3 linked regions of the Homo sapiens genome follow. The protein of the gene in region 1 purifies or fractionates together with the protein of each later gene. This does not show direct contact. Each region holds a gene or a part of one and is shown in the gene's direction. Other genes may lie near its edges. The genes, in order: MCAM, CNTN1 and LAMA4.

What was found.
Region 2: the proteins of MCAM (region 1) and CNTN1 purify together in Homo sapiens (affinity purification with mass spectrometry; 3 studies listed by BioGRID and IntAct, with this or other methods). This does not show direct contact.
Region 3: the proteins of MCAM (region 1) and LAMA4 purify together in Homo sapiens (affinity purification with mass spectrometry; 3 studies listed by BioGRID and IntAct, with this or other methods). This does not show direct contact.

Annotation. Positions count from the first base shown.
Region 1 is NC_000011.10:119,315,235-119,318,986, reverse strand, and holds the start of MCAM (cell surface glycoprotein MUC18 precursor), read left to right. Parts: upstream 1-1,856; 5' UTR 1,857-1,885; coding exon 1,886-1,952; intron 1,953-3,723; coding exon 3,724-3,752. UniProt on the Homo sapiens protein: Plays a role in cell adhesion, and in cohesion of the endothelial monolayer at intercellular junctions in vascular tissue.
Region 2 is NC_000012.12:40,933,354-40,937,105, forward strand, and holds part of CNTN1 (contactin-1 isoform 1 precursor), read left to right. Parts: intron 1-107; coding exon 108-207; intron 208-343; coding exon 344-525; intron 526-3,427; coding exon 3,428-3,552; intron 3,553-3,752. UniProt on the Homo sapiens protein: Contactins mediate cell surface interactions during nervous system development.
Region 3 is NC_000006.12:112,107,968-112,111,719, reverse strand, and holds part of LAMA4 (laminin subunit alpha-4 isoform 1 precursor), read left to right. Parts: intron 1-2,137; coding exon 2,138-2,283; 3' UTR 2,284-3,752. UniProt on the Homo sapiens protein: Binding to cells via a high affinity receptor, laminin is thought to mediate the attachment, migration and organization of cells into tissues during embryonic development by interacting with other extracellular matrix components.

The DNA of each region.
Region 1 (3,752 bases):
GCTACTGGCTTCCTTAAAGGACAGTCTTCTGTGCTTGTTTGGTGGGGCAATGCGAAGGGACGTCACCCTGGGCTCTAGGCTCTGACCTCATTTCCCTTTCACCGCAGAGACAAATCCTCCACCCCCACCTGGCTTCACTCTCCTCCAGCGGAAGAAGAATTCAGAACTGACTGTCCTTGGTGGTTAGCTGGCTTTGTTTTCAGGCCAGAGAGGCGAATGATTAGTTAATGGTGTTAAGTGAAGGAAGGGGGTTGGGCAGGGAAGCCAGCTCCATGCCCAGCCGGGCCTGCCAGGGCAAACGGCATCCTTCAGCCATTCCCACTCCAGCCCAGCAGACAAAACATTCTCATCTAGTCAGCTCTGGGCCTGGGGCCAGTCCATACATTCACTCTGGAGGGCGAGCCAGCGTCCTCCTCTTGTTCTCCCTGCAGGCTCCAGGCTCCAGGCCCCTGGCCCGGTGGGCCTGGGCTCTGCACAGCCTCTGGCTGGAGACTAATGGCATTGGAGGAGGGGTCGAGAAGGCTCTGAAAGACAAGCCTGGTGTGGTTTTCCAGTCATCTCTGCGTCATCAAAACGCCACCCCGGAGCATGCTCTCAAGTCACCTGGCCATCTCCAGGGTTTGCTGGCTCACCCTCCACCTCCCCCAGCGAGCAAAGGGGTGGCCCCGCTGGGCAACAGACCTCTACCCAAATCCAGGCCCCTATTTGGCACTCCCTGGTGGAGGCGCGCCAGCAGATGTGGACCCCTTTTCTGAGGCCAGGCTGCTGGGGTCAGAGTGAGGCAAGAGCACCTCCCCCTCCCTAGAGCCTTAGTTCAAGAGGCCAGAAGACCCAGGGAGAAGCCGGCGTTTTGGGAGAAGGGGAGCTGCAGAGCTCCCCACCCAAGCAGGTCTGATTTGATTCTTCCCTCAGCTATGGACCCACAATCAATAGGGCTGGGGAAGACATGGGGTGGGGGAAGATCAGCGCTGCCGGGATCCTTTCAATCATCAGGAACAGCAACAGGTTTGCAGGGTCAGGCTGGGGACCCTCGCCCATTAACTCTTTCTTCTCCCTGTTTCTTTCTCTTAGGTGAGGGGAAACTGAGTTCCAGGGTAGGCTCCAGAGTGAAGAGGGAAGAAACATGATTCTCAAGGCCCAGGTCTGGACAAGTGTGAACACCTTGGGCCTGCGAATTCAGCCCCCTCCTTCCTTTCTCTGGTCAAAGGCTAGACTTGCAGGAGCTTGCGTTTGAAGGGACAGCCCAGAAGGCATCGTCTGCACTCCCCATACAGGTACTTCTGGGTCTGTGGGACTGGCGCAGGGTTCTTCTCCCAAAGCTGCCAGCACTGAGGCTGAGGCAGTGTCAGGCCGGCGGCAGCGGCAGTGGTGCAATCGTTCTGGGAAGCGATAGAGGCCGGCCTGAATTCTCTGTGGCAAGGGAGGGGAGCCCAAGTGGGAGGCCCCTTGGGGACACCGAGGACCAGGTCCGCTACTGCTCCTCCCCCAGGAGGTCCCCTAGGGGCTACATTGGCTGGCAGGGGCTGAGCAGCGGTGAGCCTGGCTGGCTTCGACCCGGGGCGACTCCGGGCATCCGGGACAGCTTCTCCTCGCTGCCACCTCGGCCAGTCAGACCCCGAGACACCTGTCACTACCCCCTCAGCCTTCCCAAGCCAGGAGCCTGGGAGTCCGGCTCTGGCCTACCTCCGGCAGCGCTCCTAGGCGCAGCTCCCGGGCTGGCGGCGCCGGGGCCCGCCCCCTAGGGCTGCGGCGCGCGGGGCGGGGGCTGGGGGCTGCGCGGGGCGGGGCGGGCCCGGGCGCTCCGGGCCCCCTCCCCCGCCCCCCTGACGTCAGCCCCCGGCAGCCTCGAGCTGCTCACTTGGCTCTCGCCCTCCGGCCGGGAAGCATGGGGCTTCCCAGGCTGGTCTGCGCCTTCTTGCTCGCCGCCTGCTGCTGCTGTCCTCGCGTCGCGGGTGAGTTCGCTCGCAGGGGGGCCGCGCCCCGGCTAGGGGTCTGCGGTGGAGCGTGCCAGGGAGCAGAGCCAGCGGCGCGGCGGGGTCGGGGCGTTGCGTCTGGGAGGACGAGCCTCCTCCCTGGGTCCCCGATCCCCGGGCGCCTTGCGCGCGAGCAACTCTTCTTTGCAGCCAGTTTGCAGCCGGGATTCTAGAGTATCCCGGGAGCAGCACTCGGAAGGCGGGGAGGAGGCTGCTTCTGGGAACGAGAAGGGGTGGAGCTCAGCCTTTCGGGGTGCTGGGGGGTGGGTGGTCCCTGAGGTGCTCACTCTGGGGGCCCGCAATTGAAGCCGGGCAGGAGGCGCAGCTGGGGCGCATCCTCAAAGCCTGAATTCCGCGCCCGCCTGTTGCTGGAAAAGGCAGCTTCCTTCGCTGGAGGGGGTGCGCCGACCCACCCCTTCCCCCTTCTGCCTGGGCATCACGCCAGGCTGGAGGTGAGCGAGAGCGGGAGGTTCGGCGGCTCCCGCCCGAGCTGGGCGTTGGCAGGGGTTGCGGGGCGGTGTGGGTCGCCTCGCGCCTCCCCGAGTGATGGGATCATAGGGGACAGAGATGAGGGATGGAGGATTCCCATACTGGAAGCGCCCGCTGGCTTATTTTGGGGACCACATTCAGGTGGGAAGTGCGCCCGGGCACCTCGGAGCGTTTCTCCGGATCCGCCTGGTAGCAGGGCGCTCTCGGGTCCACGCTGCCCTTGTATGGCCCGCAGCGGTGTCGCGTGTTTCTCTTGGCTCCCATTCCGCCGTCCCAGCCGCTGTCCGGCTGGGGAAGGGGAGGGCTAGGCAATACCCAGCTCGCTGGCCTCATGCCCAGTGCCAACCATGTCCCTGGGGTATTCCAGGCTACTGCCTCCCAGGCTGACTTTATTTCTGGGGAAAGGGCTAAATCGGGCTCCACAGTTGCAGCCGGTCCAGCTCCACCCTGCCCTGCTCTTCTAGCTCTGGGAGGAGTCAGGGGTCTGAGGCTCTGGGTTGGAGACCCCACCTTCCACCTGCCCTCCTTGTCCGAGAGCCAAGGTAACAACCCAGGCATCCCAGAGCCCAGGCAGATGGTGTCGAGTGACATCACCTCCTCACAGGGCTGGCAGCACGCTGGCACCACTGACGTCACTCCTGCCCACTGCCTGGCCCTTGCCCTGACCCCTGGGGGAGACTCTGACCTCTCCATCCTTACCAGCTACCTAGGGTGGGGTCCGCGGGTGTGTGCGGAGTGTTCATGGAGGTGCTGCTGAGGGAGCATGAGACCGGAACTTCCGCCAGAGTTAGCCCGCTGGGGAGTGAGGGCAGGGATTTTGGAGGGCAGAGGATAGAGCAGTGGTGTCTTCCCCTGGCGGTGGTGACACAAAAGGGCCTGTGTGCCCCAGCCTGGCACATGCTTTGCATTCCCACACTCTGAGCTCACCCGGAGAGGAGGGGGCCTGGAAGGAAAGGGGCCTTCCTCTTGGCCCCGAGCCTAGGTTGCCCCTTTCTGCCCCTCTACCAGCCTCAGCTGGAGCTGTTCGGTGCTCAGTCTCTGCTCAATCTCTGCTTGGCTCCAAGGACCTGGGATCTCCTGGACGGGGAGAGGGCTGGCCCAGGTGGGGCGCGGGTCGGGGTGGGGGTAGAGCGTTCAGAGGACAGGGCCCTCTGCAGACCCTCTGAGTGGCAGGAAAAACAGCTGCAGCAGCGCTGCGAGGGGAGGGGCGGACAGCAGCCGGAGCTGACACAGCTGCGGGGGCCCCGCCTCCCTCCCCCAGGTGTGCCCGGAGAGGCTGAGCAGCCTGCG
Region 2 (3,752 bases), on another chromosome or scaffold:
AAAGCTTCCATGTTGGAGCAGCTCTAATCCTGTAGAATTACCATGTTTAAGAATAACTAATATTGTGCCTAATAATTAGTGGATATTTGTGTTTCTCTTAATATTAGGAACAACAAAACCATATCCTGCTGATATTGTAGTTCAGTTCAAGGATGTATATGCATTGATGGGCCAAAATGTGACCTTAGAATGTTTTGCACTTGGAAAGTAAGTATACTGACACTTTTATTAATATATATAGAAATAGTACCATTTTAGGAAATAAATAATTGTTTAGCTATAAACATAAAGTAATTGTCTTTTAAGTGTGTGAAACTTTAACCCTTGTATCTTCTATTTAAAGTCCTGTTCCGGATATCCGATGGCGGAAGGTTCTAGAACCAATGCCAAGCACTGCTGAGATTAGCACCTCTGGGGCTGTTCTTAAGATCTTCAATATTCAGCTAGAAGATGAAGGCATCTATGAATGTGAGGCTGAGAACATTAGAGGAAAGGATAAACATCAAGCAAGAATTTATGTTCAAGGTAGATACATTATTTTAATTTTGTATAAATTTCATCAGTATCTTATTTAGAGCCATTTCCATACATGAAAAACTACTATATAATGATTAATGGTTTTAAAAACAGTGATGCATGTTACATCATGGAGAAAGATAAAATATTTCTCATATGTCTAATGAAGTCACAACTATGAGTTATAGAAGTTACGAACTTATTACCAGTTGAACCATAGGTAATAGCAATAGATTGATAGAAGTGTTATTGGTAATTTTCAGAATATACACTTAATGTAGTTTGTTTACTCATTTTATCACTGTCTTTTTTCAGTATCTTTTTATTTATAGAAGAAGCTATGTGTTATGACTTAGTTTAAGTCAGTGGTTTGCAAACTTAAGCATGCATCAAAATCACATGGAGGGCTTGTTAAAACAGATTGCTGGGCCAAACTCTCAGAATTTTTCATTCAGAGGTCTGTTAGGGGCTCATGAATTTGTATTTTTAACAAATTCCCAAAGGATGCTGATAATATTGGTCCTGGAGTCACACTTTGAGAACCACTGGTTTAAGAAATCTTTTTTTTTTTTTTTGACAAAATTATCATGGCACAAACCTTTGATTTTCACACATTAAAATAAACTTACATTTGGGAAGACAGATTTTTTTTCAGGCCACACTGGAAACTTTCCAGACTGAAATAATTTCTATAATGTTCCACAACATGAACTTTGCAGGTCACAAGTGAATAAACATCGAGGGCTTCCACAATATTATTCGTTTTTAACTCTGGCTACTGTCCCATTTCACTTTCTCCCGTCTCTCCCAAAAAGGAATAAAAAATTTGACAGATTCACGCATTCTCTCTAAAAGTGTTGTCTCCATCTCCAGTTTTTCTTCTCTCTTAATTGCACTCCAACATGATTTGCATCTCTGCCTCTCCACAGAAACCTTTCTTTTCATGACCACAGACTTCCATATTGCTAAAGCTAATGATCAATTCTCAGTTGTACTTTTTTTTGATCTAACAGCAGTGGTTGCCACAGTTGGTCCCTCCCTTCTTCATGATTCACTTTCTGCACTTCATGTCTGCAACCTACTTTGTTATTAATTTCCTTGTATAATCTTTCATTCTCCATTGCCTTTCAACTCCATACTTTTCTAACATTGGTGTGATCAGGGTTCCATCTGTGAACCCCATCTCCATTTCAGTCACTCCATTTATGATCCCACTCGTGATCATGGCTTTAGACACACTCTGTACCCTGAATGCTCTAACCCAAACATTTACTCTGAACTTCAGACTCGTATGTCCAATGCCACAGTAACATTAATGCAATACATATCAAGTCTGCATGAAATGGCCTCCTAAAAGGAAGAAAATACTAGGTAAGGTCCTTTAAACTTTTGAAATAAATCCACCACTTTCTACTAGGTTTCTAAAGCTTATAGACCTGTTTTTATTCAACATATTAAGAAAACTACACTCCAGGTTCTCAACAGAGTAAAATTTTGAACTGTCTAATATCTAAAGCCTTAGAAGAACCAAGGTGACAGAGCACATATTTACAGAAGGTAATTTAAGAGAAATATTATTTATTCTTTACTAATGCAGCATACTAAGTATTATCTTTAGGTCTGATCACATCACTAGAAGGTTACATAATTAAGCCATATATAGACTGTGTCAAGCCAATTCAATTATTCATTACATGATGTAATAGAAAATGTCTGTGTTGTCTTTGTGAGGCCAAGACAGGAAGGGTGCTGATATTCCTGTATTATGTATTGCTAAGATTGTATACAAAATAAAACCTTTCTCCCTTACAATGAACATATCCACCAATAGTTTAAAAAATATCTCCCTATGTTACAAATATAATGATGAGTGAAAACATGTACTAAATAAGATTATATATGCTTTAAGATATATAGGTGTACATATGTCTACATGTATAATGTATACATTATAATGTATAATGTTGATGGTATTTGGTGAGATAAAAATGTTTTCTAGTTTTTAAATTTCTAGTATTTTATTACTTGTTAAATGTTTTTTATAAGATGCATATATTGCTTTTGCCATAAAATTAACACAAGTTCCCAGTTTCAAAGAAAATTAAATATTATTCTCCACTCAGGATTCTTTCTTCCTACTTCCTTTTTGTATTAATTTATTTATCTGCATTTATTTGGACTAGATAACTGAAATAATCAAAAAGACTGTCAAATTGTTTATTTGCTTGTTCTCTAAAAATATTTTTTCTTTGGAAAATTTTTAGCATTTTCTCATTTTTATGGATGTCTCTTTAGCTATCAAGTAGATCAGACTAAAGAATGAGACTGAGATCAATTTTACCAATGCATGGATTTCACCAATCATGGCTACTGTATATAGTTTCTAATATGGAAAGAGTATATTTAGGTGTCCAAGTCATTTTTCTAGCGCCAAAGTGAGATGTTACCGTGGCCACTAGCTGAAAGTTCCATCAAAATGAAGATAATGTATACCTGAGGGAGTGGGAAAAATATCTGAGTCTTTATCCAAAATGTTAAGAGATGGTATCATATTGAATTGAGATGTAATTCTTTAAAACCTCAATTATCATTTTGACAGACTTGAAAGGTTTATGTTATGAGCAGAAAAAAATCAGTTATTTTAGTAATAATTATAACTCAGCTTTTCAACAAAACATGATTTACAAATGGAAAAATAATGGCTGAGTTATAGTTACCTCCTGCTGTAATAATACAGGATTTGCGTAGGTTAAGCCTATGCAAAGACAAGGCCTATTACTGAGTTCAGGATGCATACACTATCTGATGTATTCTGCAGAATTAGGTTAACTAAATGTAATATTTATACTCTGGAGATTATGATGGATCTTGAGCCCTTCATTTAACATTTACAATGTTCCTTACTTTTTAGCATTCCCTGAGTGGGTAGAACACATCAATGACACAGAGGTGGACATAGGCAGTGATCTCTACTGGCCTTGTGTGGCCACAGGAAAGCCCATCCCTACAATCCGATGGTTGAAAAATGGATATGCGGTATGTATGTTCAAGTGCTTTGCTGTTCCTGAGTCCCTGTTCAAGCAGTGTTTCAGGGTAGTCCTGGGATAAATTTAGCAGGAGAGACAATACAGAAAGGGCACTTGGGCCCTGAAATATAAAAGCTTCCTAAAAAAGACAAAAACTGAACATAAAGTATCTTCTTTCAGTTTAAACAACTTTCTGTAATCTTACTCTAC
Region 3 (3,752 bases), on another chromosome or scaffold:
GAAGGGCGTAACCACCAGCCCACTGCACCACTGCAGCTTTTAAGTCCATCTAAGAATTATGCCAGCAAGCCTAGAATAAAAGCAACTATACTTTAAGATGAAATGTAATTAATTATATCATTTTGAGCTGTTCAAGATTAATTCCACTAAAATCACATCAGAAACCAGGCATTAAGAGGATAGCTAAAGAAATTAGGCTAAATAAAACCCCTAAATGCACTGAATTCTCCAAGAATACCACTCAGAACTCTGGTGACTCATTATTTCTATCCATAAAAAGCTAACGCATAAAATTCCTAGAACTACACACCAAAAAAGTCAACTTTAGTGTGTGATAGTTTTAAAATCAAAATTAAAAATCAAAGAATTTTTTTTCTGCCGGACATGGTGGCTCGCGCCTGTAATCCTAGCACTTTGGGAGGCCAAGGTGGGTGGATCACTTGAGCTCAGGAGGTGGAAACCAGCCTGGCCAACATGGCAAAACCCCATCTCTATTAAAGATACAAAAAATAGCTGAGTGTGGTGGTGAGTGCCTGTAATCCCTCCAGCTACTCAGGAGGCTGAGGCAGCGGAATCGCTTGAACCCAGGAACTGGAGACTATAGTGAGCACAGATCACACCGCTGCACTCTAGCCTGGGCCACAAAGTGAGACTCTGTCTCAAAATAATAATAATAATAAAATAAAAAGGTTTTGTTAATGTAGCCCACCCATGGGTCTAACCATTCATTCCTCTACTGAAAATCCTGCATTATTTGTATATAGTCAAGCATTCAACCTGGGAAACATTCTCTCTAAAAATTATGCATTAATTTCATTAATCAATTACTTAGGATCCTAGGGCACTGTACTGTCACTACCTACAATTAATTGTATGGTGAATTATTCAGACCACTAACTGCTACATGAATTATTACCTCCAGATGATTTCCCTCATAAGCCAAAGGATGGTAAGCTTGGGCAGAATCAAAACCTAAGTTCTAAGTCAGGTCTCCAAAGTAAGCAGAAGTATTAGATGTTTCTACCTCTTATAAGCATTCCTGTTCACTCATTTCTTACCCAAATGATGAAGTACACTGAGCAGGCTTGAAGAATAGTCACACTAATCTAGAGACAATAAAGGGAATTGATCTCTCAGGCCCCTTCCAAATCTAAAACTTTTATGATTATCATTCTAAATATAAAATGCTATTTCCATGATTTATTTTCAGTACACAGCTTCTGCATATTCTTACCCTACATTGCTTAGAAAACTTATTACAGCTGCTTGCTGATGTTTCATTTGCTGTTCTATGTTCTTTCCTGAATTACTGATTTCTAAGTGTTTTCCATCCTTTATCTGCTACTGCTCACATAGCTGTTTGTAAATAATAATAAGCTTTGGCTAAATGGATTTTAATTTTATATTTCTAAGCTCTCTAAATCGCTTTAAATTATATTGCTTCTATCATCCTAACACATTTAATTGTGTCTGTACAATTAATAAGCATAAGGCTTCTTCTAGATTTCTAATTAAGAGGAGAAAGTTCCCTTGGCATACCACAGGGCACTTGTGCCCACACAAAGACTAAGCGAGTTATCATTACCCTATTTATAGTTCTTAAACCCTGAGCTCAGAAAAATTGAATCTTAGTTTATTCGAATTCATTACTTTCTCATTATATTTTATGAACAGGCAAAAATGTAGAGGCTTAAGGGTGAAGGGTAATGAATTAAACAGAAATATTAACCAAGTCCAAAAATAGTGTGGAAGCTAAAATTTCTTTCCTCCTTCTTAGCAAAGTACACATTATAAGTGAGGCCCAGGTGAAATTAACTTTAAAAAACATAGGTAGATCATGAAAATTCACTGCTGAGGCTTTACATGTAAGTGGTAAATTTCAGCCTTGAAAGACAGCTACAATACACAGAAATGTGATCATGGAAAACATGGCAAAACGTTAAAATTACCACATGTCCATAGGACTTCACAAGCAAATAATGTTACTGAGAAATGAGTCAATTATAACTATGTTCTATTTTTGAAATGTAAATCATATTGATGATATGAGCAAATATGTATACTTTTACCAGGAAGTAATATTTGGGCTTGGAATACCTCAATTGCAATCTTTGTTTTTATTTCTTGCTCTTTTCAGAATCTCTACTGACACCACGCTTGGCCCCCAGCAAACCCTTCACAGGCTGCATACGCCACTTTGTGATTGATGGACACCCAGTGAGCTTCAGTAAAGCAGCCCTGGTCAGCGGCGCCGTAAGCATCAACTCCTGTCCAGCAGCCTGACATGACAGAGCACAGCTGCCCAAATACAAAGTTCTTTAGAGCACTGAAAGAAACACAAAGCCAGCCAGGAGGAACAGTAACTCTTCCTTCGGGTGGAAGCTTTCATCGAGTTGAACAGGACTTAAACGAATCATCAGGGACCGGATATTTCTTATTTCTCATTTGGATTCTTAACCTTGAATCCAAAGTGTCTGCAATGGACAACAATTGAAGGAGTGGCAAACTTACTTGTATTGAGAGCACACGCAATTCCTACTGGTGAAATTACTGTTTCTGTTTCTAATAAAATAGAAGGGATTCCAAATAAACACTTGCACACATTTTTGAAGTGCGGCTAGATTCTCAGATTCACCTTTCTTCCAGGGAAGATAACTTTCAATCTATATAAAAATCTCTGTCCTAAAACTACCTTTCTTTATTTTGAAGAGACTTACTAACTTACATATAATCTAAATTAGATGATAGATTTGTTTTTAGCCCTTTTGTTTGGTCTATCAGTATAAGAAGAATATTTTAGGTTTATAGCTGAAGTTATCAAGGTTTAATAAAGTAAATTTCTAACAGAATACTAGAAAAATGCAGTATAATTTAATTTTTTCTAAATAAGAAACACAGGAAATCAACTACTTTTTCCCCTTCCTTATCTCCTTAAAAGAAAAATAAAATTGTACATGAGAGGAGGCTTCTGTAGGTTATTATTACCATTATTGTGTGTTCTATGGGAATCATTGAGGATATCACAGCAAAAACAGTAGGACAAAATCATAAAATTCAATTTAAGAGTACACAAGTCCTTTTATTAAAAGTTTGCTCCTAGCCTGGGCAACATAATGAGATCCCATCTCTGCAAAAAAATTTGTACATGGGCATACACCTGTAGTCCCAGCTACTTGGGAGGCTGAGACGGGAGGATCGCTTAAGCTCAGGAGTTCAAGGCTGCAGTGAGCTATGACTGCTGACTGTACCTGCACTCCAGCCTGGGCAACAGAGTGAGATCCTGTCTCAAAAACAAAGTGTGCTCTCCACATACCTGCAACACAACTAGTCTTATTTCTAAAATGTTATAATCTTTTTTCCAAGTAGCTACATTAATATAGTCTAGAAAAAAATGGACTTGAATAGCTGGTAGAATATTAAAATATAGAAATGAAATAAAAGAATTATATCTAAAAACCTCAACTCAGAAGACAGAAAAAGAGAAAATAGGCCCTGATATCAACAGAATTAACAATACATAAAAGGAGTAACTTTTGAGGGGAGAGGATATAAAATATTTTGAGGAATTACCAAGGGGAATAAAACAATGTTACCTTGAAATGATTATATATATATTACATATTGGTATATATGTCCATACCTACCTATATCCCCTGCTACCCTTCTGTCTGAAATATACAAATAATGATAATGTTGAAGATATCGATAAACATAGCTAATGTCTGTTCATAGAGGACTTACTAAGTGCCAGC